Regions from separate parts of the Homo sapiens genome. Here region 2 is linked to region 1. The links come from fine-mapping of genetic effects on gene expression. A gene starts in region 1. The other region holds a variant in brackets. All regions are shown on one strand. Distances are from middle to middle.

Evidence for each region. PIP is the estimated chance that this variant, and not a neighbour inherited with it, causes the effect.
Region 2: its variant is fine-mapped to the expression of BMPR1A in whole blood (TOPMed, PIP 0.93).

Annotation. Positions count from the first base shown.
Region 1 is chr10:86,746,770-86,762,939 of GRCh38, forward strand. It overlaps BMPR1A (bone morphogenetic protein receptor type 1A), which reads left to right and starts at 9,850. Exons shown (of 13, transcript NM_004329.3): 1 at 9,850-10,150. RefSeq lists a silencer at 9,363-10,332.
Region 2 is chr10:86,921,551-86,937,186 of GRCh38, forward strand. It overlaps BMPR1A (bone morphogenetic protein receptor type 1A), which reads left to right. Exons shown (of 13, transcript NM_004329.3): 11 at 1-145; 12 at 1,826-1,956; 13 at 2,044-6,419. The coding sequence ends at 2,169. It overlaps MMRN2 (multimerin 2), which reads right to left. Exons shown (of 7, transcript NM_024756.3): 7 at 13,990-15,575. The coding sequence ends at 15,193. Among named protein-coding and RNA genes, the nearest start is that of MMRN2, 28 kb to the right of the region's middle. The variant T/C (reference allele first, on the strand shown) is at 3,666.

The sequences.
Region 1 (16,170 bases):
GCCTCTCAAGTAGCTGGGATTACAGGCGTGCGTCACCATGCCCAGCCAATTTTTATATTTTTAGTAGAGACGGGGTTTCACCATGTCGGCCAGGTTGGTCTTGAACTCCTGACCTCAGGTGATCTGCCCACCTTGGCCTCCCAAAGCGTTGGGATTACAGGCGTGAGCCACTGCACTTAGCTGAGATGCTGCATTTTCAATGCCAACCCCTCAATCCCTGCCCATTGTGTGCACTGAGACCATCAAGTGATTTTTTTATATATCCTTCATGTAGACCTGCACTGGCTAGTACATACAATAGCTGCTTGGCATGTGTGACTGTGTAAATTCTAAATTAGTTAAAAATAAATAAAAATCAAAATTCAGTTTCTCTGTTTAGCCATATCAAATGCTCAATAACCACATGAGATTAGGGGCTACTGTGTTGGAACAGGGAAGATACAGGACATTTTCATTTTCACTGAAAGTTCTATTAGACAGTGCTGGTGTAGATTCTGACCTGCTCAGCTCAGCCTTAAGAACAAAGTCTTGAGCCTAGCACGGTGGCTCACGCCTGTAATCCCAGCATTTTGGGAGGCTGAGGTGGGAGGATCACTTAAACCCAGGATTCGAGATCAGACTGGGCAATACAGGGAGGCCCTGTCTCTACAAAAATACAAAAAAATCAGCTGAATGTGGCAGTATGCACCTGTAGTCCCAGCTACCTGGGAGACTGAGGTGGGAGGATTGCTTGAGCCCAGGAGGTTGAGGCTGCAGTGAGCTGTGATCACACCACTGCACTCCAGCCTGGGTGACAGACAGCAAGACTCTGTCTTTAAAAAAAAAAAAAAAAAAAAAAAAAAAAAAAAAAAAAAAAGATAGCATTTTTTACCTCAAATAATGACAGAACGCAGAATATTTCTCAGCAATAAGAAAAGCCACCCCAAGAAGCAGCAAAGAGATGGGCTCACAGTCTCTGAAAAGGAAGTCAGTCATTAGCCACCTTCTGACATCCTAGCAATTAGCTGGTCTTGGGAGAAGAGCAGGTATCTCCAGAGAGGTGCCAAATAAATAGGATAAGAGACTATAAAAATGAAAAGCCTTTTGGCCTTTCATCACAGGATAATCCAATGCATGCGAATTAATGGTGAAAGGCTCAGTAATAGCCTTTGTGAGGAAATAGGAGCAGTGTAGCAGGATATCCTTTTTCCGCACTAAAGCACCCAATTCTTTCAATTTTATATACAGCGGAAGCAATTAATTGTACTAGAAAGAAATCCACAGCTGGCTTTTCCTGATGGCCTCATAAGCAACAAGCACTATTGTTCAGTTTCCGGGACAGATGTAAAGTCATTCTATTGCACTGCTGAGATTTTTCTGAATGTTTAGTTTGACTTCTCCAAAGATAACTTATGTGTTAACATCTAAAATTTGATTCGTCTTGTCATCACACATTTTCAGTATAAGCAACTGTCAAAAAGTTAATTTTTATTGTGCTATTGCACTCCAGCCTGGGCAACAAGAGTGAAACTCCATCTCAAAAAAAAAAAAAAAGTTAATTTTTGATTTGTAATATAATCCAGCACGTGACTTGATGCTGGTATTTTTTCCAAACGTTATGTGACTGAATCATGTTATTCACTTTTGTTTGTTTTACATGTTTACATGCAGTTGAACTGCACTGCCTCTGCTTTTGTGGTATCATCCACAGTGTGGCTATTCAGGAATCAGGCATAACAAGATTATACATCAAAAACTCAGAAATTTAACATTTCAAATGCTGGCCTGTATGGCATTGCTTCACCTTCTAGATGCATTAAAATACACCATATTTCATTAATTCTCAGATGCACATTTTTTTTGACATTTGAAACTTTCTGGAATTGCGATATCTTAATTAACGTGTCAGGGTTTAACTGGCAAGGTTTTTCTTCCTTAGTTGTACATAAAATAATGATGGATCTTATAATCAACAGTATCCATGCTGTTCTTTGGGTGGAAAAAACCCACAACGAAACAGTACCCTAGTTTTGATGACATATGGTATACATAGTTAAAATCTCATGAGTATGATGTGTTATTGCAAGTGTAACAACAGAACAACTCTTTATTTATTTTTTCTGAGACATGGTCTCCCTCTGTTGCCCAGGTTGGAGTGCAGTGGCATGATCACAGCTCACTGCAACCTCTGCCTTCTGGGCTTAAGGGGTCCTCTTGCCTCAGCCTCCCGAGTAGCTGGGATGACAGGCAAGTGCTACCATGCCTGGCTAATTTTTGTAATTTTTATAGAGATGGGGTTTTGCCATGTTGCCCCGGCTGGTCTGGAACTCCTGGACTCAAGCGATCTGCCTGCCTTGGCCTCCCAAAGTGCTAGGATTACAGGGGTGAGCCACTGTGCCTGGCCTAGAATAACTCTTTTTACCAAGAAAAATATTCACGTCAATCAAATAAATAAAAACTTTAATTACATATCTTATATGGGATTCTAACTGACTTCATTCTGACAAATATACAATTTGCCACTTTCATTTTTCTCTCTATCAATCAACCAGTTCTTTTAAATAATATCTACTCTTTTTTTTTTTTGGTGCTGAAACCCACAGTCGAAAATATCTACTTTTCTGATTATAAAAGTAACATTGGGCCGGGTACAGTGGCTCACGCCTGTAATCTCAGCACTTTGAGAGGCCAAGGCGGGCGGATCATGAGGTCAGGAGTTCAAGATCAGCCTGGCCAACATGGTGAAACCCCGTCTCTACTAAAAATACAAAAATTAGCTGGGTGTGGTGGCGCACACCTGTAGTCCCAGCTACTCAGGAGGCTGAGGCAGGAGAATCACTTGAACTCGGGAGGCAGAGGTTGCAGTGAGCCAAGATCATATCATTGCACTCCAGCCTGGGCGACAGAGCAGACTCTCAAAAAAAAAAAAAAAAAAAAAAAAGTAACGTATAACATTGTCCATTGTGGGGGAGATAAAGCTTATGGAAGAAAATAATAACCATCCATTAGGCCACCACAGAACACTGCCAACGTTTTCTCTTTATTTCAGGATAATCTATTTCTTTATAAACACACATATTTAATAATACAAAATTAACAAATGCTTAAATATATCTTGTCAAATGTCCTGAAAGGTATATAATGTTACACAATAAAAAAGCGGGTTCTTTAAGCAAGCCAGGGACCAGCCTCCCCATTGCCACTGGAGTAGAATTTTCTGGTGTTCGACAGGATCACGTGCAGATGTTGCAATGCATAATTCCAGGGAGCACCATTCGTGTCAGGCAGGTTGCGAATGGCACCCCCTTAAAGTTGTGCAACCTAGCAACCCTGGTGCTCAGTACCGTGACCATAGCGACAGTGGTACATACGCAGGGGAGATAGACAGGAGGGAGGATGCAACAGCACAGCAGATGCATCAAGGAGTTTGCAACTACCCACCAACCTTCAAAACAATGGATTCGCAGAAGCAAGGATTCAATAACTGGTAAGCTCCAGTGGCCTGGGACTGCTTTTTTGATACTACGTGTATTTTGGTACTCCCTAAACTGTCTCCCTCAGGCTGAGAGGCCCCTATTTATGTTGAAGAACAAAGGTATGAAAACTTATTTGTGAGAAAGACATAAGAACAGCTAAGCTATGTGGAAAGTCAGTGATGTAGACCATTGAGAGAAAAGCCTAAGGAGATGAGGATGGAGTAGTCAAAGATGACTTCTTGGAAGAGGTGGTACTCAGGCAGTATAGGGAGGAGAATGGCATTAAATGGAGAATGAATATGGTCCATTCTTCAGAAAGTAGTGAGACCAGTCTAACGAAATGTTACTCTATAGCAGTGTTTTCAGATTTAATGGGACTGGTGTTTCACAATAGAAATCTAAACAACTGGGCAACATTAGTTGAAAGAGGGAATGACCAATTAGGAGGAGAGCTAGCAGCATTCAGGATCGGAGGAAGAGGGGCTTTAAGGTAGGTAGCAAACTAAATGGAAACTAATCTGCATTTTAAAATAAACACTGACAAGTATTGGTTACTGGTTATATATATGACTATGTATGCCTTTGAAATAATAAAGGAAGTTGTTTTAAAGTTTATTTATTGAGAACAAGTTGTTAGATGATAGTTCTGTTATTATGATGTACAGGATTTGTTAGTAGACTCTCATTCCAACAAGATAAGTGCTTTATCATTAATCCTCAAAAATATGGAAAAACAAAACAAAACAAAACACCTAACCCTGCCTTGGCTAATAGAAATAAAAAGAAATGCGCCAGGGCAAACTACCAGTAGAGAACAAAATTAAGTATGTCATTCATTTAATAAATACTTACTGACTACCTACTGGTGTGCCAAGCAGCACACTGGATACAATGGAGTGAGAATGAGACAGTTCCCATTCTCTGAACTTTTGAGTCCAGCACAGGGTCAGGTACTTTCAACATATCCGATGGGTAAACTAGTATGCCTGGTCACACTGGTGACACCACACCACATCTAGGAATACATCCCAATTACCATGTAAGCCATGGACAGTAGGCACAGTATGGTGTTCATGAATCTGCACTCCTGATCCAGATTTTATCTCCCCAGTTATCTCAGCTTGAATCTTTTATCATCGCACCTTGCCTTCCTTTTACTAGTCATTCCCAAGGTAATCATATTCAGCTCCACATGCTGGATTTCTGGACTACTAGCTCCAAAGGAATTCTTGAGTAGAATCAGTGTTTAGGGATACTAAGAAGAATCAGACATGGGTCTTTTCATTTTTGAATGTATGTATGGGTTTTTTGTGTGTATACACACAAACATATGTACATGCATACGTACATATATGTACATATGTGTACATGCATACTTACATATGCACACATATGCACGCATACACATGTGCACATATGCGTGCGCACATGCACATGTGCGCACATACGCATATATGCACGTGTGCACATACGCATATGCGCACGTGTGCGCACATACGCATATGCGCACATATGTGTGCACACATACGCATATGCGCACATATGTGTGCACACATACGCATATGCGCACATATGTGTGCACACATATGCATATTTGTGTGTACATATATACATATATGCATATACTTACATATGTACACAAACACCTACACACACACACAAAGTTCAGACTAGAAATCTATTTGAATTATATTCAATAGATTATATACACACACACCCCTATTACACTTGGATTAATTTTTAGCCAGAAAAAAATATATATATAGCTTTTTTTTTTTTGAAACAGAGTGTCGCTCTGTTGCCCGGGCTGGAGTGCAATGGCGAGATCTGGGCTCACTGCGACAAGCGATTCTCCTGCCTCAGCCTCCCAAGTAGCTGGGACTACAGGTGCCTGCTGCCACATCCAGCTAATTTTTGTATTTTTAGTAGACACAGGGTTTCACCATGTTGGCCAGGCTGGTCTTGAACTCCTGACCTCAAATGATCCACCCACCTTGGCCTCCCAAAGTGCTTGGGATTACTAGCATAAGCCACCACGCCCAGCCAAAATTACATATAATACACCTTTAATATGTACTTAGTGTATGTCCAGAGCATATATATTATATATAGTTTTCATCTGGTTAAAAAATAATCCAAGTGCAATAAACCAGGTGCTGTGAGGATAGGGAAAAGCAGGGCAGTGAGCTGCAGCAGGACAGGGAAGGCCAAGATCTACTGTGGGCTGCGTGGGAGTTGGGGTAGGGAGGCCCCAGCTCCCGGTGCTCGGTGGGAGGAACCATAGTCCTCTAGGCAGTGCCTGATAGCCAGAGAGTAGTGAGCAAACAACAGGTGGTAGTCCAGGAGCGCAGTGGGGATGGGGACATCCAGCCTGAGGTAATGGGGGAAGGGAGGCCCAACAGATAGATAGAATACAGATACAGGGAGCCTAGAAACAAAGAGCTGGAGGCAATTAAGTGATGCCACCAACAATACCTACAACTGCCCAGCAGTCTGGGTGCAGGGATGCAGCTAAGTCCAAACAACAAGCAGAGAAATTCCAGGTCCTGGCAAGCTAACAGGTCAGGGTTTCAGACACAAGAGAAGGGCTGTCAGTTCTTAGAAAGGGGCGAGGCAGTGGGAGGCTGAGTCTTGAGCTTGGGACCAAAGCTCTGATAATTCTTCCTGCCTCAAGGCCTAGGAAAGATCAGGTTCTATGGTAAAGGGTGTACGGATAGTAGGGAAAGGAGGAATACAGAGGCCACGGACTAGGTAGGACCAAGTGAGAGCAGCAATATCCTCCATCATCTATCTTTCAATCATAGTAGCCAGTGCTTTGAGGCAAAGATAAATTAAAATGGAGCTAAGGGAGAAGGAGCAAGTTGTTTAGAAGTAAACAAAAGAAGTAAAACACTGTACCACCACAATGAAAATGAATTCAGGTTTTTAAACTTCCTCTATTTTGTGCACTGAATTATATACATCCATCTTATTCTTAACCACAGTTTCTGTTTCAGTTTAGTCCTTCTAAGCCATGATGGGGTACTACTAACCAAAAAAAAAAAAAAAAAAAAAAAAGATGTAGTAGTGTCCATGCTGAAAAATGAAGCTGTTTATTCTCCCTAACACCTACCCATTTAATATTGGGTTTGAAGCCAACCTAAAGGGTCACCCTACCAATGGCATTCCTTCACTCGTGCCTCCTTACTGGCCTCTAACTTATCATCAGACCCAGAGACTTCGTGCTGCCTTTTGCCTTATAAGATCTTTACAACATGAAAATGACTTTGAATGGATTAGCTTGGATTAATCTATTCACCTTGGATCCCTGAAGGCAGAAGTCCCATTTCACTGAAGAGGATGTGATCCACAGCTTTCCCAGCCAACCTTCACTCTTTCCAAGATAGCCATGCCACCCTCTAACACTAAAAGGGTCTTGGTGACAAGGTTTAGAAATGCCTAGAGGATATGTATGCTTATTTCTCTTCTCTCATTTAACAAATATTCACTTGCCAGGCACTAGGCTCTGAGGAGAGAGTTGAGAATAGATTGACAAAGTCAAGCTGGCCTGTAGTCCCAGCTACTTGGGCGGCTGAGGGGGGAGGATCACGTGAGCCCAGGAGTTCCAGGTTACAGTGAACTATGACTATGCCGCTGCACTCCAGCCTGGGTGACAAAGTGAGAACCTGTCTCTAAAAAAAGAGAGACTGACAAAGTCTTTTGCTCATGGAGTTTATATTCTAGTGGAGCAGAGGGGCTCAGACCACAAACAAATAACTAAATGCACGATGTAATTAATGAATGCTGCTTTGGGCATGTAACAACTACCTCTCTTGTGACCTACCTGGACAGAAGAAAAGACCATTTCCAGCCTATTCTAGTAACCCACTTAAAGGAATACCAACACATTACGGAATGTTAACTGTGGATCCCGAGATGTTGCTTTTGAGTTTGGGGGCCAGAACACACGTGTCCAGATGTCTCCCTGGGCAGACAGACCGGAGAAACGGGCTGGCATGCATAAACATGCCAGTAGCCAGGGAGAACAGCATGCCCCACTAGCTGCTGGTAGCCAGGGCGCTGAGGATTGAAGCCTGGGTACTAGCTGGGCCTTATCAAAGGAGAGCGAAAAATTCCTGAAGATTTGAAAAGGAGAGTCTTTTGCAGAGAAGCAAACATATCACGACTTAAAATTTGATGCTTCAATTTTGCTCTCATTTCTACAGTGGCAGATAACACAAGCCAGGGAATACTCATTTGTACATTTCAGAAACTTGATGTACTAAGGTTCCCACCTGAGATTGTTGTCTATTTTATAGACCAATTCATATGTCTAAAAATCCAACTAGACTATAAAGAGCATAATAACACGCTTGCCATGGTTTTCTCTGCCGACACATTGCTCAGCATACGTCAATGAGAGCTTTGACCAATCAATGTGAATCTCCTTAAGCAAAAGGCCCATCTTTTCCTTTAGAACTAAAGCTGGGGCTGGGCGCAGTGGCTCACGCTTGTAATCCCAGCACTTTGGGAGGCCGAGGCGGGAGGATCACGAGGTCAGGAGATCGAGAACACCTATTAACACGGTGACACCCCGTCTGTACTAAAAATACAAAAAGTTAGCCGGGCGTGGTGGCGGGCGCCTGTAGTCCCAGCTGCTCAGGAGGCTGAGGCAGGAGAATGGCGTGAACCCAGGAGGCGGAGCTTGCAGTGAGCCGAGATGGCGCCACTGCACTTCAGCCTGGGCGACAGAGCGAGACTCCGTCTCAAAAAAAAAAGAACAAAAAAACCCCAAAAAACAAAAAAACTAAAACTGGGTATTATGAAGGAAACTTGAGAAAGAAAAGTGACCAATTTTAGTTGATGCAAGTAATCTCACGTATCCTCTTCTTCCTGCATAGCAAGATACTACAACCCATGACTGTCAAACCTGAGACAGCTGAAGAGCCCAGAAAAAAAGATTAGGGAAGAAAACAGAATTGAAAAATAATTCAGAATGACAGAGGCTATCTGCAGCATTAAGGGCAAAGGCGGGTAAAAGAAGAAAAGGGAGACAGAATAAAAGATAAACCAAAAAATTGAAACAAAATACACGGGAATTCAAACATTTATACCAGAATATAAGGGAATACCCTGGAATCTAAACACCTCTTCAGGCAAGAATGTGTGTCAATACAAATGCCTGGCACATTGTTTTCCTTCCCCCTTTCTTTTTACCCAGTTTACCCAGTTTTAAAAGTGATTTTTTAAAATGCACCTTTAAAAGAACATCTTTTGTTAAGTGACTTAAACTTGATACATTTCTTGGATTACTAAGGAGGTTAAAGTCACATTTGGTGAAAAAGGGGCCTATCTCCTCTTTCCTCACATACGGGTCATCGAATACTTTTAAAAGCATTTTCCACCATGAATGAGGGGAAATGGAAGAAAAGAGGTGGTGACAATTATTTGCATTTTCCAAATGGACGGAATGAGCCTCCGGAGGGTACACGAGGTCACCAGCGTGAGCCCGCGGTGGAGCTGGAGGCGTATTTATAGCTGGCTGACCTCAGTCCTGTTGGGCCCTCGCCGCTCCTTATCTTATGCCGCTGGAATTCGCGGGCTCGCAGGTCACAGGAGCCCGGGCGCGCCGGGCCTGGCGCTCCCGAATCGATGAGGGAAGCCGCTCTCCCCGGCAGATCCTCCCGGCCGGGGAGCCTCCATCACCCTGCCTGCGCCTCGGCACGCTGGCAAGGAGCCCGGGAAGAGACGCCGGGAGCGGTGGGTGGGCGAGAAACAAATGCAATGTGACTTATATTTTTCTTTGTCGCAACTACCACGACCTGGCCATCCCCCACCTTGGTGACTTGGTGCCTTCCCAGCGACCTTATTTCACGCCAGCTGACTGGCGTTCACCGCAGTGTGAGTGTCGGCCGGAGGAGGGGTCCACGCGAAAGAGCCCGCGAGAGTGGGGATATCCGGCCCCGAAGGCCGGAGCGGGCGTCCAGGGCGCCGATGGCCGCAGCGCCCGGCAGCCGTGTCCACGCTCCCCTCCGCCGCGTTCCATCGCGTGCTACCTACGGCGTCTGCGGGAAGCTACCCGGGCGGCAGCTGTGGGGCTGGCTTGTGGGGAGGGGCCGGCGGGCCCGCGCGGAGGAGCAGCCCCGACTCCCGCCCGCACCAGCAGCTCGGCGCCCCCTTGCCGGCGGCTGGCCCTCCTCCCCGGCAACTGGGCGCCGGGCTCCGCGAACTCTTCGGGCGCTTCCGCCGTGCGCTCGGCTCTTTTCGTGTCCGGGGCGGGGCGGGGCAGGCGCCCGTGGTCGGGTGCGCGCGGCGCGGGCGGGGGCCTTCCCAGTGCGCGCGCGCCGTGCAAGGCCCGCGGACGCCCGCCCCTCCCCCAGGCCCCCGCACCCGCGCCGCCCCCTCCCCTCCTGGCAAGAGTCGGCGGCGGTGGCGGCGGCCGCTGCAGAGATTGGAATCCGCCTGCCGGGCTTGGCGAAGGAGAAGGGAGGAGGCAGGAGCGAGGAGGGAGGAGGGCCAAGGGCGGGCAGGAAGGCTTAGGCTCGGCGCGTCCGTCCGCGCGCGGCGAAGATCGCACGGCCCGATCGAGGGGCGACCGGGTCGGGGCCGCTGCACGCCAAGGGCGAAGGCCGATTCGGGCCCCACTTCGCCCCGGCGGCTCGCCGCGCCCACCCGCTCCGCGCCGAGGGCTGGAGGATGCGTTCCCTGGGGTCCGGGTGAGTTGGGAGTGCGCGTGCGGACCGGAGGGGCTGGCCGCAGCGGGGAGGCCAGAGGGGCTCGGGCGAGGCTGCAGAGGCAGCTGGGCGCGCGGTGGCCGGAGCCAGGGGCTGCCCGGCCCGGCCCCGGCAGCTCCGCAGGCCTCGGCGCGCGCTGGGCCGGGACCGCCCAGCCAGAGACCCACGGCACCCCGCGCCGCGTCCCCCGCCGGCCCCTCTTTTGTCTCCCACTCGCGGGTTGCAGGCCGAGTTTGGGGATGCGGAGTGGGCGAAAGTCGCTCCGGGGACGCTTCTGGAATCCTTAAATGGGAAAGGCGCTCACCTCCCCGCCCCGGAGCGGCGAGGCTGATATTTGTGATTTGGCTCCGGACGCTGTGGGGAGGAACAGGGGAGAACAAAATGAGTTTCGGGCGGGGGTCGAGTGAGAGGAGCAGCCGGCCCGCCCCCGAGTCCCCGCGGGAAGGGGCCCTGGCCCCCGAGCTCCCGGAGCTGCTTCACCTGTTGTCCTGCGCGGCCTCCGCTCCGTGGCCTGGTGATTCCGTACTTCAGTTTTGGAAAACTTTCTGCTGGATTGCCTGGACCCTTTTTTCTCTTTCCAGACTCCTAGTGGAAAGATTTGGCAAGGAAAAAAAAATGAGCTTGCGTCAGGGAAGAAAAATAATATGCTGTGTGTTAGGGTCTGGCGTTTGAGCGTGGTACTCTTTCATGCTCTCAGATGTTTTAATTTGGTCAAACTCCTGCAGGTTTTCTCTTTTAAGCGGTTAACAAACTGTTCAGAGTACATAGTATGAACTTGGCACCTGTGTTACGTCATTTAATCCTTACAACGATTCTGGTTTATTGTATTCCTCATTGTTTTAGGGGAAGAAACCGAGTCGCAAAGAGGTTAACTAACTTGTCTAAGGGAGCTGGGATTTGAACCCAGGAACATCGTATTCTGGCAAACGAATTAGGAAGAAAAAAAACCAAAACTGTTTGCAAACACTTTTACGTTTAGGAACATTTTTCAGTTACTCTTACTTGAAATTATCGCTATTTTGTTGCTGGAGTTGAAAACAACTACTTTATTGTATTTACTTGTGAGAGGAGTTAAACTTTGAATTAGAGTGTAACTTAATGCGTCTCATTGTTTTCAGTTGTTGAAATAAAGAATGTGAACCAGAATTATTTAGATTTTTAAATTTGAAGCTAAAATATGGGCAATTCTCTGATCTAGGAATGGGGTGAGTGTATGAAAGGCCGATTGAAATGTAGAATGCGTTTTTAGTAGAACCAGACTCAGTTCTTGTTTAATTTTTCCTCCATTTTCCGTGGAGCCCACTTTAAACTTTTTCTACTTTCTTCACTTCTCCCCACCCTTTACAGAAGAGGTTGAGGCACTTAGCAGGAGCTCCTTCATTAAATTCCTTCTGTTACTGGCTTCTTAACCTTCCGTCAAAGAGGGAGAATTTTTTTTTTTTTTTTTGTCTTTCTTATTAGTTAACACCTTGGGGTTTTTTTCCTTTCCTTCTAATTTTCCTGCTTAGTGGAGCGTGAGTTATTTTCTCTGTCGTATTTGGGTTCTTTAAAGTACAAATGTTCTTAAGATTTTTTCAGTTTACAAAAACCTTTTCTTAAGTCTGCTACTCCTTCAAGCTGTCTTGTTGCTGCTTTTCCTTTTCAAATCTTATTAACATTTTAAAAAGCTTGTTCGTAATAAAAGTAACACATGGTTGTTAATTGCGAACTAGCGCAACATTGAAATTAAAATTTAGTCATTCACAATCCATCTCTAGAGATTGCCAAGTGTAGTCTGCTTTTCCTGCCTTTGCCTGGTTGGTGGCTAGCCACTCATTTCTTAACCCCTTGTTATCTGGATTTCACCTTCACAAGGAACTATAACCTAATCAACACATTTAACTACCTTTTTCTAAGTCCTCTCCTTGAGTTTTCTGTAAGATTTAACATCGACTTCACATTTTCAGATGCCTCTCCTTGGGTTTCATTCATCTATACTCGCTGTATTCTAACACAGGGTCCAAGGCAGTAAGATACAACAGATCCTTCCCTCATGGAGCTTAAAGTCTAGTGGGGAAATACTTATTGAAAAATAAAGTCTCTAGTTAAATATAATTGTGATTTTAATTAAGGTGCAGAATATTATAAGAACTTCAAATGGAGACCTGATCTGGTGCTTGTGGTGGTGGGAGAATCTGGGAAAGATACCTTAAAATTGCTTTGTTGGAACCCAGGCAGATTGTGAAGGATGAGCAAGAGTTAACTATTAACTAGATGAAGAGGGGCCTTTTGTGACATTATACTGACTTTGTTCCTCTCCGCCACTTTTCTGCCTTCTGTTTCTTCTTTCCTCTTTAATATGCGTTCTCCAAGTTTCACTTTTCAGATCACTTTTCTCTATGTCTCTAGTCCCTTAGAATGATTGTTCAGACCTTTCTGTTGGAATAATTCTCAATTCTTTGTTTATGTGTCTTCTGAATCACGTTTTTTTGTTTGTTTGTTTTGTTTTTTCTTTTTTATTCAGTTGCTTTCTACATATCTGTACCTGATTGTTCTGAGCTGCTTTTCCTTAGCAAACTTGCCTCTTTGGTGTTCTTTATTTTTGTTGATGTCATACCAAACCCAAACCTTTTCCCATTTCATCATATCTTGTCTGTAGCCAACATCTGTTGATTCTGCTTTATGATATTGTAACTCTTCTGCTCTCTATTCTTGCTAACTGTGGGGCAATTCTGAATTCATATTGGTGTGAAGGTAGTAGTCAAATCATAAAACGAGTTGGGCAGCTTTCCTTCTTTTTCTCTTTTTCAGGATCATTTTAGACTGGGATTATCTGTTCCTTGAAAGTTTGGAAGACCTCCCCTATGTGACCATTTAGGCCTAGATCTTTTTTCTGGAGAGGACTTTGAGTAACACTTCAATTTCTTTAATAGCTGTTGGTTTGTGTCGATTTTCTGATTCTCATATGAATTTTAATGTTTCACATTTTTTTCAGGAATTTATTTTCAAATCTAGTGTTATTTGGCTTTCACGTAGTTCTCCCCCCACCACCCCGCGACTCCACCCCCACCCCCTAACTCTAAATCAAGTTCTCATCCCACCTGGACTAATGTTATGATTTTCTTGCCTTCACTTTTCTCCTTTATCTAATCTTATGTATTTCTGCCTAAATTAATCTGTAAGCCCAGTTCTTACCACTTCGCCACTCAGAAGTTTCCTAGGTCTTCCATTAAATGAAATATTTTCTGTGGTATTTGCCTCAGATTTACCTGTTTTTTTTTTTTTTTTTTTTTAATACCTTATTGTTTTTTCTTTCTTTCTTTCTTTCTTTCTTTTTTTTTTTTTTTTTTTTTTTGATACAGAGTCTCGCACTGTCGCCTGGGCTGGAGTGCAATGGCGTGAGCTCAGCTCATTGCAACCTCTGCCTCCTGGGTTCAAGGGATTCTCCTGCCTCAGCCTCCCAGGTAGCTGGGACCACGCCTGGCTAATTTTTGTATTTTTAGTAGAGGTGGGGTTTTGCCATGTTGGCCAGGCTGGTCTTAAACTCCTGACCTCAGTTGATCCGCTCGCCTCAGCCTCCCTGTGCTGGGGTTACACAGGTGAGGCACTGTGGCTGGCCTTTATAGCAGTTTTTATACAAATATTAGTTTCACTACTAGTTTGCAGGGTGGGTCTGTAACGGACTTTTCTTGCATATTAAAAGGAATAAATGGGGAAAGGCTCCTGTCTAGCCTAACAGTAGCTGTTGAACTGTCCTGATCTGACTATTGGATCTTAGGAGCAGCGAACCATGGAGAGAAAGGAAAATGGGTTTCCTATCACACTAAATTTTGAAGTAGGAACCATTTCTTTTCCTTTTCTACTTTCCCACCTTTTACTAGTTTTTAGGCTTTAGGATGTCTTTTTAACATCACAAGGTCCATATTGACCAAGTTGGACCAACTTTTTAACACAAGATTAAATGTTGACTTGCATTGAGTTATGTCCATTGTAAGATACACAGTAGTGTTACAGACCACTTAAAATATGCTTCTAGTTGTAAGAAGCCATTGATTGTAAGGTGCACCCCAATTCCGGAGATGCTAAAATATGAAAAATGGATGCATCTTAGAATTGATGAATAGTGTTTCTCTCCCTAATCAAAGCTCTTGGATGTGCCTGGAAATCCCCAGTAGTGTTTTTTGAAAAGAACACTAGTTAGGGGCATAGGGAGATCAGATGATCAGTAGACTCCATCTCAGGGTGGCCCCTGTGGTCCCTAAGCCAGTTCGTATGGGCAGTTTAATATATAACTAATGAGTAGACATTGAATAGATGAGTAAATTATCTTTGAGTATCTTTTATTTACTCTGATGTTGTAGACTTTGTTACTCTTTTATAGTTTTATATTTCTGATGAGCCTTCCTTTCTTATGGCACAGATTTGTTATACTGTTAAAGTCTGGAACAGTGGAGCTTGGCTCTTGATCCAGCTGTATATAATTGGCTGTTGACTTATGAAGGAGGACAGGAGTATGCTAGAGATAGGGATAAAATATTATAATCACATTTGCAGTTAGGGAGATTAGTTACATGTTGGAAAATCATTTTGAAGAAAGGAAGACTGAAGATGTTCAAACTTGTAGGAAGGTCTTTCTGGCCTAGCCCGGATTAAACCCATTTATGCCTAGTGTTCCACTATTGGAACGCTAAGCACGTGGGAGTTATTTATATCCTGCTCAAGGTCATCACCAAGGTCTGATTGCAAAAATTCAAAAAATTGCAGCCTCAGGCATAAATGGGTTAAGATGGTGGCAGATAATTAGGGCCTGGAATGGATAGGAGGCGATAACTAGCGTGGATGAGAGAAGGAATGGGATTGGCAAGAACAACTCCTGGATTTCTAGCTTGGAAAGCAGGGTAGATGTGGGTGACAGATATGAAAAATGAGGTGGGAGAGCTGGTTTGTAGAAGAAAATAGTATTGGATCACATGGAGTTTGAGATATCTGAAACAGCCAAGTAGGGATTTCCACTTGGCAGTTGTCTATATGGGTCTGGGGTTTGACAGAGGTTTGTGCTGGAGGTAGGCATTTGGGAGTCATTGCTGTATAGATTTTATATTCCAACAGTGGGAATTGGGTGGCTCTCTCAAGTGACTCTTGCTTACAAGTGACAGCCCTAACTCAAGTTAGCTTAAAGGAGGGAAAAGCTTCTCCCCACTAACCCCCATGATATTGAAAGGTCTAGAAATAGACATGGCTGGACCTAAGTGCTCAAATGATATAATTAATTGAGGTTGTCTTTTCTGTTCTTCACTTTTGTGGTCTCATTTCAGGCAGGTGCATATATCTGGCAGAGGAAGACATAGGTTATAGGTTATAGAATTACAGGTTATAGGTTATAGACCTCGTATCGAGAACTCCTTGTATGGTCTAGCAAAGAGCCTAAAACAGCATTGAGAATTTTTTTTCTTTCTTTTTGAGACGGAGTCTTGCTATGTTTCCCAGGCTGGAGTGCAGTGGTGCGATCTGGGCTCACTGCAACCTCCGCCTCCTGGGTTCAAGTGATTATCCTGGCTCAGCTTCCCGAGTAGCTGGGTTTAACAGGCGCCCGCCAATACGCCTGGCTCCTTTTTGTATTTTTAGTAGAGACAGGGTTTTGCCTCGTGGGCCAGGCTGGTCTCAACTCCTGACCTCAGGTGATCCTTCCGCCTTGGCCTCCCAAAGTTCTGGGATTACAGGTGTGAGCCACTGCGCCTGGCCAGTCTTGAGAAATTTCAACTTAAGGCCTGGGTAGAGAAGATAGACATTAAATAATTATCTAGTTGTAGTTATGTTAAGATCTACAAAAAGGAAGTCCAGGGAATGTTACAAGACTGATAAGGGAAGCTGGGCTGTTCAGGATGCGGGTACTTTGGAAGGCTTTCCTGAGAAAGGTAGCCCGCAGAGTGAGACCTTAGGCAAGAAAGGACAAGGAGACTGTTTTTGGAAGTATTCAGTAGTATTTATTTATTTATTTGAGACGGAGTCTCACTCTGTCGCCC
Region 2 (15,636 bases), 170 kb after region 1:
ACCAGGGTGGGCACCAAACGCTACATGGCTCCCGAAGTGCTGGACGAAAGCCTGAACAAAAACCACTTCCAGCCCTACATCATGGCTGACATCTACAGCTTCGGCCTAATCATTTGGGAGATGGCTCGTCGTTGTATCACAGGAGGTGGGAGTTTGAGTAGTTTCTGATTATGTTGATTTACTCATCATTTTAAAAATAACAGCTCCAGTTATATAACTTTTTAGTTTTTAATTTTTGTGGGCACATAGTAGGTGTATATATTATTGGATAAGGAGTTATTTTGATACAGGCATGCCATGTGTAATAATCACATCTTGGAGAATTGGATATCTGTCCCTTCAGACATTTATCCTTTGTTTCACCAACCAGTTATACTCCTTGAGTTATTTTTAAGTGTACAATTAAATTATTACTAACTGTAGTCCTCCCCGTTGTGCTATAAAATACCAAATACTTATTCATTCTTCTATTTTGTCTCTACTTATTAAACATCCCCCCCCATCTGCTGCTACCCTTCCCAACCTCTGGTAACCATCCTTCTGTTCTCCATGAGTTCAGTTGTTTTGATTTTTAGATCTCACAAGTAAGTGAGAACATGTGAAGTTTGTCTTTCTGTGCCTGGCTTATTTTACTTAACGTTATGACATCCAGTTCCTCCATGTTATTTCAGAAGGCAGAATCTCATTCTTTTTTCTGGCTGAATGATACTCCATTGTGTGTAGGTGCCACATTTTCTTGATGTGTTCATCTGTTGATGGTCACTTAGGTTGCTTCCACATCTTGGCTATTGTGAACAGTGCTGCAGCAAACATGAGGGTGCAGGTATCTCTTCGGTTAGCTGATTTCCTTTCTTTTGGGTATACACCTAGGAGTGCAATTGCTGGCAGTTACGTAATTTAGATGTCACATACGTCAGAGTCCCCAAGACCACCCCCAGGTTGTGCGATTTCACTTGAAGGACCACAGGACTCGGCATGTGGTTGTCCCAATGGCTAACATTTATCCCAGTGAAAGGATACAAATCAAAATCAGCCAAGTTTAGAAAACCAGGCGAGGCTTCCCAGAATCCTGTCCCAGCGGAGTCAGGGCGTGTGCTTCATTCCTCTTACTAGTTGTGACAACACATACAAAGTGTTCTCATTCGGGAAAGCTCCTTAGAGACTTGGCACCCAGAGATTTTACTGGAGGCTGGTCACATAGGCATCCTCTGCCTGGCATGTACCAGAATTCCAGCAGGAAAGCAGACGTGCAGTACACACCACATTGTTTGCACAAGCAGCCCAGGAGTGGTGAGTTACCCTCACCGTTTCCGGTAAGTTTTATATCCATGTAGGGAACTGTTTACCATTTGTGTACCCGGGCACTGGCCAAGGCCAAACCTTGCAAGCCGCCTTTCCTAAGGGAAGGTCTCAGGCCTGCTGTGTGAACCCTTATCTGCACCTCATAAGTCTTTCTACTGCAGAGCAAAATGAAACAAAATAATAAAAACTATTCATTAGTAGGAACAACCATATAAGTAAATAATTATACTTTAGGGTAAATGGCTGATTTCGCCTTGCTTATTTTTTTTAAGGAAGATTGATATGCCCTTTGTCGATGGACTCTATCACAGTTGTGATGACATCCCTGGTGGAGGTAGAGGAAATAGTTGGACATAAATAAGAGAAAAACATACATCTACTATTAAGAGTGAATCATAGTGTCTATATTTTTTCTTGTGTAAGAATCCGTTTTAGTTCCATAGTTTAGCAAAAGATGCTTACTAGATTGGTATATCTTGTCCAGCAACCATTTTTGTGCCCATGTTTTCTCATTCCCTTATAGGGATCGTGGAAGAATACCAATTGCCATATTACAACATGGTACCGAGTGATCCGTCATACGAAGATATGCGTGAGGTTGTGTGTGTCAAACGTTTGCGGCCAATTGTGTCTAATCGGTGGAACAGTGATGAAGTGAGTGGAACTCAGTCCCCTGAAGAAGTGATTCGTAAATGCCACCAAATATATTCTCTGCTCACTGAACATCTCTTTACTTTTCAGTGTCTACGAGCAGTTTTGAAGCTAATGTCAGAATGCTGGGCCCACAATCCAGCCTCCAGACTCACAGCATTGAGAATTAAGAAGACGCTTGCCAAGATGGTTGAATCCCAAGATGTAAAAATCTGATGGTTAAACCATCGGAGGAGAAACTCTAGACTGCAAGAACTGTTTTTACCCATGGCATGGGTGGAATTAGAGTGGAATAAGGATGTTAACTTGGTTCTCAGACTCTTTCTTCACTACGTGTTCACAGGCTGCTAATATTAAACCTTTCAGTACTCTTATTAGGATACAAGCTGGGAACTTCTAAACACTTCATTCTTTATATATGGACAGCTTTATTTTAAATGTGGTTTTTGATGCCTTTTTTTAAGTGGGTTTTTATGAACTGCATCAAGACTTCAATCCTGATTAGTGTCTCCAGTCAAGCTCTGGGTACTGAATTGCCTGTTCATAAAACGGTGCTTTCTGTGAAAGCCTTAAGAAGATAAATGAGCGCAGCAGAGATGGAGAAATAGACTTTGCCTTTTACCTGAGACTTTCAGTTCGTTTGTATTCTACCTTTGTAAAACAGCCTATAGATGATGATGTGTTTGGGATACTGCTTATTTTATGATAGTTTGTCCTGTGTCCTTAGTGATGTGTGTGTGTCTCCATGCACATGCACGCCGGGATTCCTCTGCTGCCATTTGAATTAGAAGAAAATAATTTATATGCATGCACAGGAAGATATTGGTGGCCGGTGGTTTTGTGCTTTAAAAATGCAATATCTGACCAAGATTCGCCAATCTCATACAAGCCATTTACTTTGCAAGTGAGATAGCTTCCCCACCAGCTTTATTTTTTAACATGAAAGCTGATGCCAAGGCCAAAAGAAGTTTAAAGCATCTGTAAATTTGGACTGTTTTCCTTCAACCACCATTTTTTTTGTGGTTATTATTTTTGTCACGGAAAGCATCCTCTCCAAAGTTGGAGCTTCTATTGCCATGAACCATGCTTACAAAGAAAGCACTTCTTATTGAAGTGAATTCCTGCATTTGATAGCAATGTAAGTGCCTATAACCATGTTCTATATTCTTTATTCTCAGTAACTTTTAAAAGGGAAGTTATTTATATTTTGTGTATAATGTGCTTTATTTGCAAATCACCCACTCCTTTACAACCATACTTTATATATGTACATACATTCATACTGTAGAAACCAGCTCATGTGTACCTCATATCCCATCCTTAAGAGAAGAAATGTTATAAAGTAGAACTAAATATAAATTTTCAGAATTAATGCATTCAAAGTAATATATCAAATCCAGGACTTTGTTAACTTCAGGTAAAAACTTCATTAGGGTAATATCATCTCAATTTTTTCAAATGAAAGGATTCTCTAATTAGAAATTTATATGTCAGAGCTGTTATAAATTTATCAACTGTCAAATATGTTCTGGACAGCTAAATCATTTGAGATTTTTGGTTTTTTGATTTCTATTCCCTAACTTGTGAAGACAATGAAAAATCAGGCAGAAATATTTAGTATCTAGTCAGTATCTGTAGCTACACTGTATAACTGTTCTTCAATAAAATGGTTCATATTTTATAGATGCCTTGTTATCTCAAGAAATCTGATT[T/C]ACATAAACTTATACTTCTTTAATGCTTTTTAAATATTTATTCTGAGCAAACAATTCATGAGTACATCAAGTGAGATAGTTTTATTTGATTATAACATAAAATAAATGTGATTATATCACATCATCATCAAAAAGGTTTAAATTAAATGGGAGGAAATCAGCATATGTCCACCCATTACCAAAATTTGACTATCATTTAAGGTTAAAACTTACAAATTTGTCTGCACATCAAATTTCACAAATTTGAAAATTGCCTTAACCATTTTGATTAATAAGTTTCATCTGCCATAATTAAAGTCTGAAGTGTTCATCAAGATAAGTAAATTTGCATATGGATAATACCCAATAACTTGTTTTTTCAGAATTTTTCACCATATGTATACTGAGAAATACAAATATTTTAATCTGCGTTGCCGTATGATATGATTGCACTTAGAACACCCAATTTACTTAAATCTTGGTTTACTTTTGACTTGATACCATAATCTTTAAAATCATTTGTCATCTTTTTTTTTTTTTTTTTGAGACGGAGTCTCGCTCTGTCGCCCAGGCTGGACTGCGGACTGCAGTGGCGCAATCTCGGCTCACTGCAAGCTCCGCTTCCCGGGTTCACGCCATTCTCCTGCCTCAGCCTCCCGAGTAGCTGGGACTACAGGCGCCCGCCACCGCGCCCGGCTAATTTTTTGTATTTTTAGTAGAGACGGGGTTTCACCTTGTTAGCCAGGATGGTCTCAATCTCCTGACCTCATGATCCACCTGCCTCGGCCTCCCAAAGTTCATTTGTCATCTTAATAAAAATATAAAGACAGGCAAAGTTTATTGGAAATGTTCAAATGGTGTGTGGAAGCAAAAAATTACAGCCAGTATATGAGACCACTATTATGGTTTTTTAAAATTAACTTGGTCTAGTAAAAGTGATATCAAGAGTTAATCTTAGAAACTTGCTCAGTAAAAACATTTTCTAGTATAACATGTTCTTTAAAAAGCAAATGCTGCCGTCTTTGGAATCTTAATCTAAAAATGTGGCCGGGCGCGGTGGCTCACGCCTGTAATCCCAACACTTTGGGAGGCTGAGGCGGGTGGATCACAAGGTCAGGAGTTCAAGACCAGCCTGGCCAACATGGTGAAACCCCATCTCTACTAAAAATAAAAAACTCAGCCAGGCGTGGTGGCGGGTGCCTGTAATCCCAGCTACTCGGGAGGCTGAAGCAGGAGAATTGCTTAAAATCAGAAGGTGGAGGTTGCAGTGAGCTGAGATCGTGTCACTGCACTCCAGCCTGGGCAAAAGAGCGAAACTCCATCTCAAATAAACAAACAAATAAATAACAAAAAACAAAAATGTTGCATTAAACTTAGTTCTTGTCTCTCCTTTCCACTCTTATTCTTAAATCTGAAGCTCATCGACTAAGTGAAATATTTAAAGAATATGATAGGCCAGCAAGAAGAAGTATTATGTAGTACCATAGTTAGTAAATTCGTAAAACCTTGGAAGCCATTATTTGGTCCCACTTGCAATTTAGTGTTTTTGAAGTGTGTAGCTTCATTCAGATAGCTCTTTAAATAATTAAAATATAAAAGCAAACAACCCAAACTACCTGACTATAAACAGGAAAAGTTAACCCTCAAAGAGAGTTCTTGTGAATTCTCTTTATGCTGGCAAATAGCTCTAGGATTAAAGGCACATTAGGGTTTCCTTCAGTTTGTTTATTCTAAGCTTTTACTGTGCTTTTTACTGAACAAGTTTCTGATGTATAAAACTTGCATCTGATTTCTTTGGAAATATTTTCACAAAAGTTATTTTAATCAGTATTTTTACATTGCCTTTCCAGTGTCCAGAAGTGTTTCTAAACTTAGAAAGTGACCTATAGTTTTTTAAAATTATGTTTTCCTAGAACGTGCCAAATTTTGATTTACTCTAACAATCAGTACTTTTCTTCAGATGCTTTGTTCTGTTTAGAACAAAAATGCACTATAGTTTTTAAAGAATCATGCATCTTTGGGTTGGCCCAGGATCAAATTTGATATTGAATAATTTATTCCAGGGCAGCTTTCATAAACATACTTCATAGATGTTGTTTTGAAATGTTTCTAAATATCTAAAATCATTTCAACAGCAGAAATGATTTTTATTTTAACAAAAGATTATGATAGCCCTTGTAGTGTTTAAAAGTGGTCATATTTATTACTGACTTTGAGTCAGGTGTTAAAATAGCAGTGCCACAGCTCGTCTCTTGCCTTAGTGTGCTGCTGTGAGAGTCACAGTGGAAACTGCAGGGAGGAGGTGTGTTCCTAAGAACCAAAATCCAGCACAGCATCCTGTGAAGCCACGTGTAATGATGGTCCCATAAGGAAAGTATGTGAATATGGCTCTTGTAAAGGATTAACTATTGTAATTTTAGCTTATGCTCTGTATTCTGTTTTCTATGGAATTATTTAAGCCCTTTTAGTGACCTTTGTCCTGGCCCATTTAAAAACTAAAATGTAGTATATATTGTATAAAATGGAAATATCATTATTGCTTCATTAGGGGAAACTGTACATAGGCATTGAAAGAAGGGTAAAAGCAAGCAGTTTTATCAGGCAGTTGTAAAACACCAAAAATATAGATTCGTCTTTGACGTGTAACACACTAAATGTATTTTGTACAGCATCTGGTTTAAAAGGTGCCTTAAGAGTTTACCATTACTTGCTTTGTTCTATATACAGATTATGTCCAATGTATCATTTTGAAGTAAATAACCTTATTTTAGTATACTTTAGTGATGTGTTTTGTGATGCTACACTCAGACGGTATTGTGCATCAGAAGTCATCTGTTGAGATTTTTGTAATGATTAAGTTAGTGTATATACATATGTTCCTGAGATGTACACTTCAACTACCAGAAACCCAGTATGGAGCACAGGTAGGTACACGCTTGCCCTGTGGAGATAGAGAACTTCTAAACCTATCACGGTGCAGGGGTTTTTCCTTTAAAAAACAAGACAAAACATTGTTTTCTTTTTCCTTTTTTTTTTTTTTTTTTTGAGACGGAGTTTTGCTCTTGTTGCCCAGGCTGGAGTGCAATGGCACGATCTCAGCTCACTGCAACCTTTGCCTCCTGGGTTCAAGCAATTCTCCTGCCTCAGCCTCCCGAATAGCTGGAACTACAGGTGTTTGCCACCATGCCTGGCTAATTTTTTGTATTTTTAATAGAGACAGGGTTTCACCATGTTGGCCAGGCTGGTCTCGAACTCCTGACCTCAGGTGGCCCACTTGCCTTGGCCTCCCAAAGTGCTGAGCTTACAGGCATGAGCCACCATGCCTGGCCAAAACATTGTTTTCTGATTATGGAAATGTACTCATGGCAGAAAATTTGGGAAACAACAGCAAATAATAAAGCAAATAAAAATCACTCAAAATTCTATTGCCAGACATTATCACTATATACATTTGAGTGTTTCTTTTCAATCTTTTTTTTTGAGAGAGTCTTGCTCTGTCACTCAGGGTGGAGTGCAGTAGCGCGATCTCGGCTCAGTGCAACCTCTGCCCCCTGGGTTCAAGTGATTCTCCTGCCTCAGCCTCCCAAGTAGCCGGGATTACAGGTGTGCACCACCACGCCCGGCTAATTTTTGTATTTTAGTAGAGATGCGGTTTCACCATGTTGGCCCAGGCTGGTCTCGAACTCCTGACCTCAAGTGATCTGCCTACCTCAGCCTCCCAAAGTGCTGGGATTACAGGAGTGAGCCACTGCACCCGGCCTTATTCTTTTTTATGTTGCATTTTTTGTAATATTAGGATCCTAGTATGCCATTAAATAGCCATTGAGAACTTTTTTTTTAATGACTGCACAATATTTGACTAAGAAGATGGAGTAATTTCTGTGCTCAATCCCCTATTGAATATTTGGATTATTTTCATTGTTTTGAAAAATAGATATTAAGCATCCTTATACATAAATCTTTATTTTCTTATATTACATTTCTGAAAATGAGACTAGTGGATATGAACTTTTAAAAGATCCTTTAAGATGGAAAAACTAAGGTTCTTGGAAAACATTGCCATATTGCTACTCACAAAGCTTTTCATTTTCATTCCTGCTAGCAGTTCATGAGCTTAGAGCGATGGGATGCATTTACCTGGCCTTAAGATGCTCCTGCTGCAATGGGAAGTGAAGCCTTGGATAGCTTTCCTCCTCCTGTGCAATACTTTCTTGTCATTTTCCCACCTGCACTGAGTCCCACCGCCAGTCAGGGCTGTTTTCAGGTGTATGTGAATTCATCCCAGCAGTGTGCCTTCTGCTGCCTTTTCCTAGGGAACTGAACATGTTAAATCACAGACGCGATGTGGCACTGATTATTGTTCCTCAAAAGAAATGCGTGTCTGAAGATAGCCTCTTACAGATTCCTCACGGGAGTCTCTGTTCAGTGTCATTGTAAGTTTCTCAGAATAATCGCAGGCGCTCTGATGCAGCCTGGTAAAGAAGACTCAGTGATTTCTGGGAACTGCAAATGCTTGCCAGCTTTCCTTCTGTCTGTGGAAACACTGAATAAATGTATTCATTTCTCCTTTCCAGCAATCTGTTAGTCTCACTGCTCCATTCCAAGGTTTCTTTAATATTATTAACAGAGCAGACATTAAGAAACAGAATTGTCTAATCCTTGTTCTTCCAAAATAGGTTTAATCCTTGTAGATAGTTTCAAGCAGACAGTAAGTCAGTTACTAAGTTTTCACTTGGAGAAACATTTGCTGATAGTAGTAGCATATTGACCATTTCTGACATGTCATCCTTATATCAAGTTAGGTGCACGCTCCTACACAGCCTTGGCTCAGCGCTTGGAGCATACAGTCTTGACTGGGTGGACATAAACCGCTGAAAGTGGCCAGCAGTGAGCAGAGGCCACCTACTATCAGCGGCACTGCTGCAGGCATGGAGACTTAAATGTGTGAGTGCTGGTATAAGCAGAAGTGGGAGAGTCACCTCGATGCTGGGATCCAGATGGCGGCTTATTTCAAGTGCAGTGGCACATACAAAAAATATTTTTGGAAGGGAGCAAGGACTAGGGCTGAAAGGTTCATTCATAATCTTTTTTTCTTTTTTTTTTTAGGTGGAGTCTCGCTCTGTCACCCAGGCTGGAGCGCAATGGGGTGATCCCAGCTCACTGCAACCTCCACCTCCCGGGTTAAAGCAATTCTCCTGCCTCAGCCACCTGAGAAGTTGGGATTACAGGCGTGCACCACCACACTCAGCTAATTTTGTATTTTTAGTAGAGACGGGGTTTACCATGTGGGCCAGGCTGGTCTCGAACTCCCAACCTCAGGTGATCTGCCCACCTTGGCCTTCCAGAGTGCTGGGATTATAGGCGTGAGCCACTGCGCCCAGCCCATAATCTCCTTTTGACATAGGAATTGTTAATTCACATATTCCATCAACCTATTGCTCCTCTGAATCTTAGCAGCTTCTTGGTCTTTGTTCAAATGAAATCTAAGTCAATTCCATATCTCTCAATGTCGCTACATCCACCTCAGTGCTTATATCCTAATTTTGTCTTTTTTAGAGACAGTCTTGCACTGTCACCCAGGCTAGTGTGCAGTGGCTGTTCACAGGCATAATCATAACGCACTGTAGCCTCAAACTCCTGATCTCAAGCCATCCTCCCACCTCAGCCTCCTGAGTAGCTGGGACCATGCCACCATGCCTGGCTCACATTCTAAACATTATGCAGGAAGCTCAAAGTGAAAATCAATATGGAATGTTTATATTGAAAATATTTTTGGCTGGGTGCAGTGGCTAATGCCTCTAATCCCAGCACTCTGGGAGGCTGAGGCGGGCAGACCACCTGAGGTCAGGAGCAGCCTGGCCAACATATAGTGAAACCCTGTCTCTAAGGTACAAAAATTAGCTGGGTGTGGTGGTACTCGCCTGTAGTCCCAGCTCCTTGGGAAGCTGAGGCAGGAGAATCACTTGAACCCAGGAGGCGGAGGTTGCAGTGAGCTGAGATCGCACCACTGCATTCCAGGCTGGGCAACAGAGCAAGACTCCGTCTCTCAAAAAAAAAAAAAGAAAAAAAAATATATATATATATATACACACACACACACACACATATATATATATATATTCAAGCAATGTGAAGAAAATATTGGGCCCCCTTGTTTTTCTTTAATGGAAGAGCCATTTTTAAAAGCCAGTTTAGAATCCAGATGATGACATCTGTTGCTCTACTGTATGACTGAAATGCAGGTCAGTGTTGAAAAACATAAAAAATTGGAAGTCTCCACTGAAAGACCTACACTGCTGTGGGAGGGATTTTAATCAAGACATTTCAAAAGCAATTTTTATTACTTGATCCTGTCCTCATACTTGGCTAGGAGTTCAGCTGGAGATAGAATCTAACTCTGAAGATGATACTCCATGATCTTCTAGCATCCCTTGTCACCAGTGAGAAGTCTGATGTGGATCTAATAAGTGACATGTTATACAGGTTAACTTATTTTCAAGAAATAGAATTTTCTTTTTATTATTGATGTTGGAAGTTGAAACTGGCCATATCTAAATATATTCATTCTGTTTCTTAGTACTAATGGGATCTTTTCTTAGACCTGGGAAATTTTCTCCCATTATTTCTTTTGTTTCTTCCCTTTTTTCTTTCTTTTCCTTTTCTCTTTCTAGAACTTTCTAGAACAAATCTCAGGTCCCCTAGATGTTTCTTCCATAATTGTTACTATGCTTCTCATATGTTTCATCCTACCTTCTACTTTTGTCAGCCCATCTGAGTTTATTTCAACAGCCAAATGTTTTATTTTGAAATGATTCCAGGCTTCCATTAAAGTTTCATCAATAGTATAAGGACTGCCATTTACCCTTCACCCAGATTCATAAACTGCTAACATTGCACAATTGCTTTGTCATTCTGTGTGTGTGTGTACAGGAATCACAGAGACTCATCTTGTAATGTTTGTAATGTCCATGTATCGTGTATGCACACATTTTTTTCTGACCTATTAGAAGCAAATTACAGAGCTAATACCCCTTTATCCCTAAATACTTCAGGGATGTTCTATTACTTAACCAATTATGTACAATTATCAGAACCAGGAAAGTTCACATTGATACAATAGCAATGACCAACAATACCATAATCTATAGACCTTACTGAAGTTTTGCTAATTGTTATTTTGGTGTGGTTGGGTTTTTTGTTTGTTTGAGATAGGGTCTCACTCTGTCACCCAGGCTGGAGTACAGTGGCACAGTCATAGCTCACTTCAACCTCAAACTTTGGGCCTCAAGCGATCCTCCCGCCTCAGCCTCCCAAAGGGCTATGATTACAGGCATGAGCCACCATGCTGGCCTCATTTCCCCTTTCCTTCTCAAAAGGATTCTGGCTTTCCCTACTGCATTCATCCACGTCCACTACCCGCTCCAAGAGAGCTGAGTAATTGTCAAGCCAGGTTTGGGGAGCTTTCTTGATGGAGGGGATGGAAGGAGGGTGGTGCTCAGGCTACAGCAGGGAGAGCTTTTCTGTTTTTGAGCTAAAGACATAACAGGGTGCAGAGGCTGAGAAAAGGAGAGTTCTAAGCAACATGTCACGAGCTATGTAGCCTCTTCACACTGCTTCTGAAATAAAATCTAACAGTAGGAGTGACTTTGACATTATGTTGTGGTTTCTGCAGACAACTTGGGATTGGCCCCTGTGGGTTTGTTAAGGGCATGTTTGTCAGAGTATGGGGGCTCCCTGCTTCCAGAGGCCCAGCAGCTGCTGTGTACCTGGGGTTCAGGGCTGACGGCAGGGCTGGAGTTCTGGCACACAGTGACCCCAAGTGTGTTTATTTTTTTCCTTGTGGTGATGGTTGAACTGTTTTAGGGTTGGTTTTTGTTATTGTTTTTTTTCAACTTTTATTTTAGATTCAGGGGCTACATGTACAGATCTGTTACCTAGGTATGTTGTGTGATGCTAAGGTTTGTGGTATGATTGATGCCATCACCCACATACTGAACATAGTACCCAACAGTTAGTTTTTCAACCCTTGCCTCCCCAACATGTCTCAAGGGCTGGGTTTGAGTTTGGGGCTCCGCCCAAATCACTCCCATCTCCCCAGCAGTCTCACATGTTTGGGGTCATGATTTCCTGTTGCTGTTTCATTTCAGACCTGATCCCTTCTATTTTTCAGGAATTACTAAAATGTCCTGATGTACTTATGGTACCGTCTCTTGTTTTCCAATTGGAGATTTTTTTTTTTTTTTTTGAGATGGAGTTTCATTCACTCTTGTTGCGCAGGCTGGAGTGCAACGGCTCGATCTCAGCTCATTGCAACTTCTGCATCCCAGGTTCAAGTGATTCTCCTGCCTCAGCCTCCCGAGTAGTGGGGATTACAAGCACCCGCCACCACGCCTGGCTAATTTTTATATTTTTAGTAGAGATGGGGTTTCATCACATTGGCCAGGCTGGTCTTGAACTCGTGACCTCAGGTGATCCACCCGCCTCGGCCTCCCAAAGTGCTGAGATTACAGGCATGAGCCACCAATTTGGGGATTTTAAAATATTTTTTCCACATCAGGTTTGCAGGTACCACCGTGTGCTCCGTCCATTGTGGTGTTTTGGGTGCCACAGTGAGGGTGCTGACCGCTGGTCTGGGTAACGGGGGGTCTGCTTGCAGGACAGGAGGAGCCTCCACCCAGGTGGAGACAGGAAGTCTATCAGATGAACTTCAGAAGTCTTGCTAATCTGGGGGGGGGGTCCTAATTTTAGGACCGTTTAAACAGAAAATTTGCCCTTAAACTTGATGTTAAGGTTTTGTGAAATGCAGTCATATATGTTTTGTTGCATGGAAAACACCCTGTCCAGAAGAACCATTTCTCTAGTTCTCATCCCAGAAACTTCTGGAGTGACACATCCATGCTGTTGGCAGAGCTTGCCCGTTAGCACTTTCATGTATAATCTTCCTCTCAAAGAGGACCAACTGTATGAGGGTTGGATGACATGTACCCCTTCCAGAAGGGATCAATTCACTTCATTTACTATGGGCAGTAACTTCCAAAGGATAAGACTGCATTACCTAATGTCTCAACTGTTAACAGCAGAGCCTGACCAGTCACTGCATGATTGAGCAGAAAGAAGACACAGCACAGTCTGCAGCAGCAAGGCTCACCTGCTACTGGGCTTCTAATCTTTGTTCTGGCGTGGCCGTCTGCTTCATGCCTTGGGGCAGAATTGGTCTTGGTAACTGAGAGCTGCACCGGGGGTGGGTGATACTTAAACCTGTGGTTAAGATAATAAAATGCCAGAGGCCAGGCGTGGTGGCCCACACCTGTAATCCCAGCACTTTGGGAGGCTGAGGTGGGAGGATCATTTGAGGTCAGGAATTCAAGACCAGCCTGGCCAACATGGTGAAACCCTGTCTCTACTAAAAATACAAAAATTAGGCGGGCATAGTGGTGGGTGCCTCTAATCCCAGTTACTCGAGAGGCTGAGGCAGGAGAATTGCTTGAGCCTGGGAGGCAGAGGTTGCAGTGAGCTGAGATTGCGCCACTGCACTCCAGCGTGGGTGACAGAGCAAGACTCCGTCTCAAAAAAGAATGCCAGAATACCTAATTAGAGCTGTAAGATCAACCACCTCACACTAAAGACAAAGTTCAAGAGAGGTTGTGATTTACCCCAGGTCAAACATGAGCAGTGTGGCCTGGCATACTGTTCCTTTTAACACCGATGTTTTAGCACATTGAGTGCACAAAACTTAGTGCTAAATAAATTCTGAGGAACAAGTGAAGTAATAACTCCTAGCAAACAATGAGAAGTGCTGATAACCTTGTTAACGCCAACAAGCAACTCACTACGAAGTCCAGTCTGATTTTTTTTTTTTTTTTTTTTTGAGACAGAGTCTCGCTCTGTCTCCCAGGCTGGGGTGCAGTGTCACCATCTCAGCTCACTGCAACCTCCGCCTCCCGGGTTCAACCGATTCTCCTGCCTCAGCAATCTGATTTTCTTATAGAGAAGACTATATTCAACAAATTTTGAGTACTTAATACCAAAAAAAACCTTGTTTCTGATAGCTAGATGACTGTTTTCTCAGGCCAGTTTGCTATAGGATCTGAACTTTTTTGAAAACCATATGCTGGTATATTACAGGAATAATTGCAGCTATGAGCTGTACTGTCTAGTCCAGTATTAGTATCTTTGCCTAGTGTGGAAACTTCCAAGTGTTTTATATAGAATAAACGGAAATCATTCTACATAACAGGGCCTGGAATAATCAGTCACATTTACCCACATAGTTTCACGTTGTCCCATGTTTTTTTTACCTACTCTACCAATTATTTTTGCCCTCCAGAAGTAAATGAGGCAGAGATTTGAAGGGCATCACTTTATTCCAAAGTTGATCATTAGTGAGGGGGATTTTTACAGTCTTCTTTCCCTCCTCCCTCAGCTGCCTCCTGGTTAGAGATGCTAACAAGAATTACGATGGTCCTAAGATACTGGAGGAAGTAAAAAAGTTGAAGGCCCTACATATTTTAGTTCACGTTTGGCATTTCTTGGTCTTTACCCTATGTAAGGCAAGGAGAAAAAGACATGAAATTTAAATTACAGATAAACACAAGTGTATTAGTCCATTTTCACACTGCTATCAAGAATTGCCCAAGACTGGATAATTTATAAAGGAAAGAGGTTTAATTGACTCACTGTTCCACATGGCTGGGGAGGCCTCAGGAAACTTACAATCATGGCAGACAGTGAAGAGGAACCAAGGCATCTTCACAAGGTGGCAGGAAGGAGAATGAACACAGGAGGAACTATCAAACTTATAAAATCATCAGATCTCGTGAGAACTATCACAAGAACAGCATGGGGGAACCGCCCCCAAGATCCAATTACCTCCACCTGATCTCTCCCTTGATGTGGGGATTATAGGGATTACAATTCAAGATGATATTTTAGGTGGGGGCACAGCTAAACCATATCCTACAAGGAATGACTGAAACTAAAGATACTAATTTCCTTTCCCTTGGTTGGCCAGGCTGTCGTCTTCATTACTGACTAATAGAGACCAAGCAGGTTGGTTTAATCCCATTGCCCTCTAGTGCTTTCCAATGTTGGCCAAAATGTTGCCTCCATTTTAAACATTCCTCCTGGGGAAGAATGTCTTTCTATCATACGATAAGGGAGAAGAGAAGAGGAAGCAAGAGAAAAGTTTAAAGTGTTGTACAGAAGTTTCCAACCACAGGAGGAGCAAAACACCAAAGAAGTTGTAGAATACAGGGTGTGGTGAAGAGTTGGAGCCCAGGCCGTGCTGTCTGAGAAGGCATGCCAAGCCAAGGTTCAGGCTTCCTAGGACCATGTCCTGCCCGGAGAAGCATTCCAGTCCTTCTCATCATGGAGAAATGGCCAAGCCCCATGTGGTTACAGGGAAGCCACGTACACCACACCATCTTTGCAGAAGGTTTCCAGGGAAGAGACAGACCAACTGAATGACCTCCAGCCCATCCTTGGCCAGAGCCCCAGGCCGAGGAGAGCTGGGCGAGTCCATGATGTCTGATCAGATTGGGGCTGGGGTTCAGGTCTTAAACATCAGGAAGCCCCCAAATGCAGTGCCCGACAGGCTTCTCTTTGTTATTGATCCCTGGGTTAACTCAAACCATACTCGCTCACCCTTCTGCAGCTCAGCCATGGCAAAGACCGTTGCTGTGCTTCCACTCCCCTGCCCAGTGGTACAGACTGGAGTCCGATGGTGACCTCCAAACACCAGCTGCCCGGTGCCTGGCCCTGGGCCAAATTCAACGCTCACTGCAAACAGGTAGACACCACGCTCAGGGGCTCGGAAGTAGCCATGTTCAGGGAAGTAGCTGCTGCCAATGTTGATGTATGTGGTGTTGAACTTCACTGTCTGCAGGGCAGCCGTCCCTTCTGAAAAGCTGGCATAGAAGGCCACAGGGGATCCTGAAACATAACAGGACAGTGCTTAGTGATTCATCCCTTACACCATTGGGTGGGAAATTAA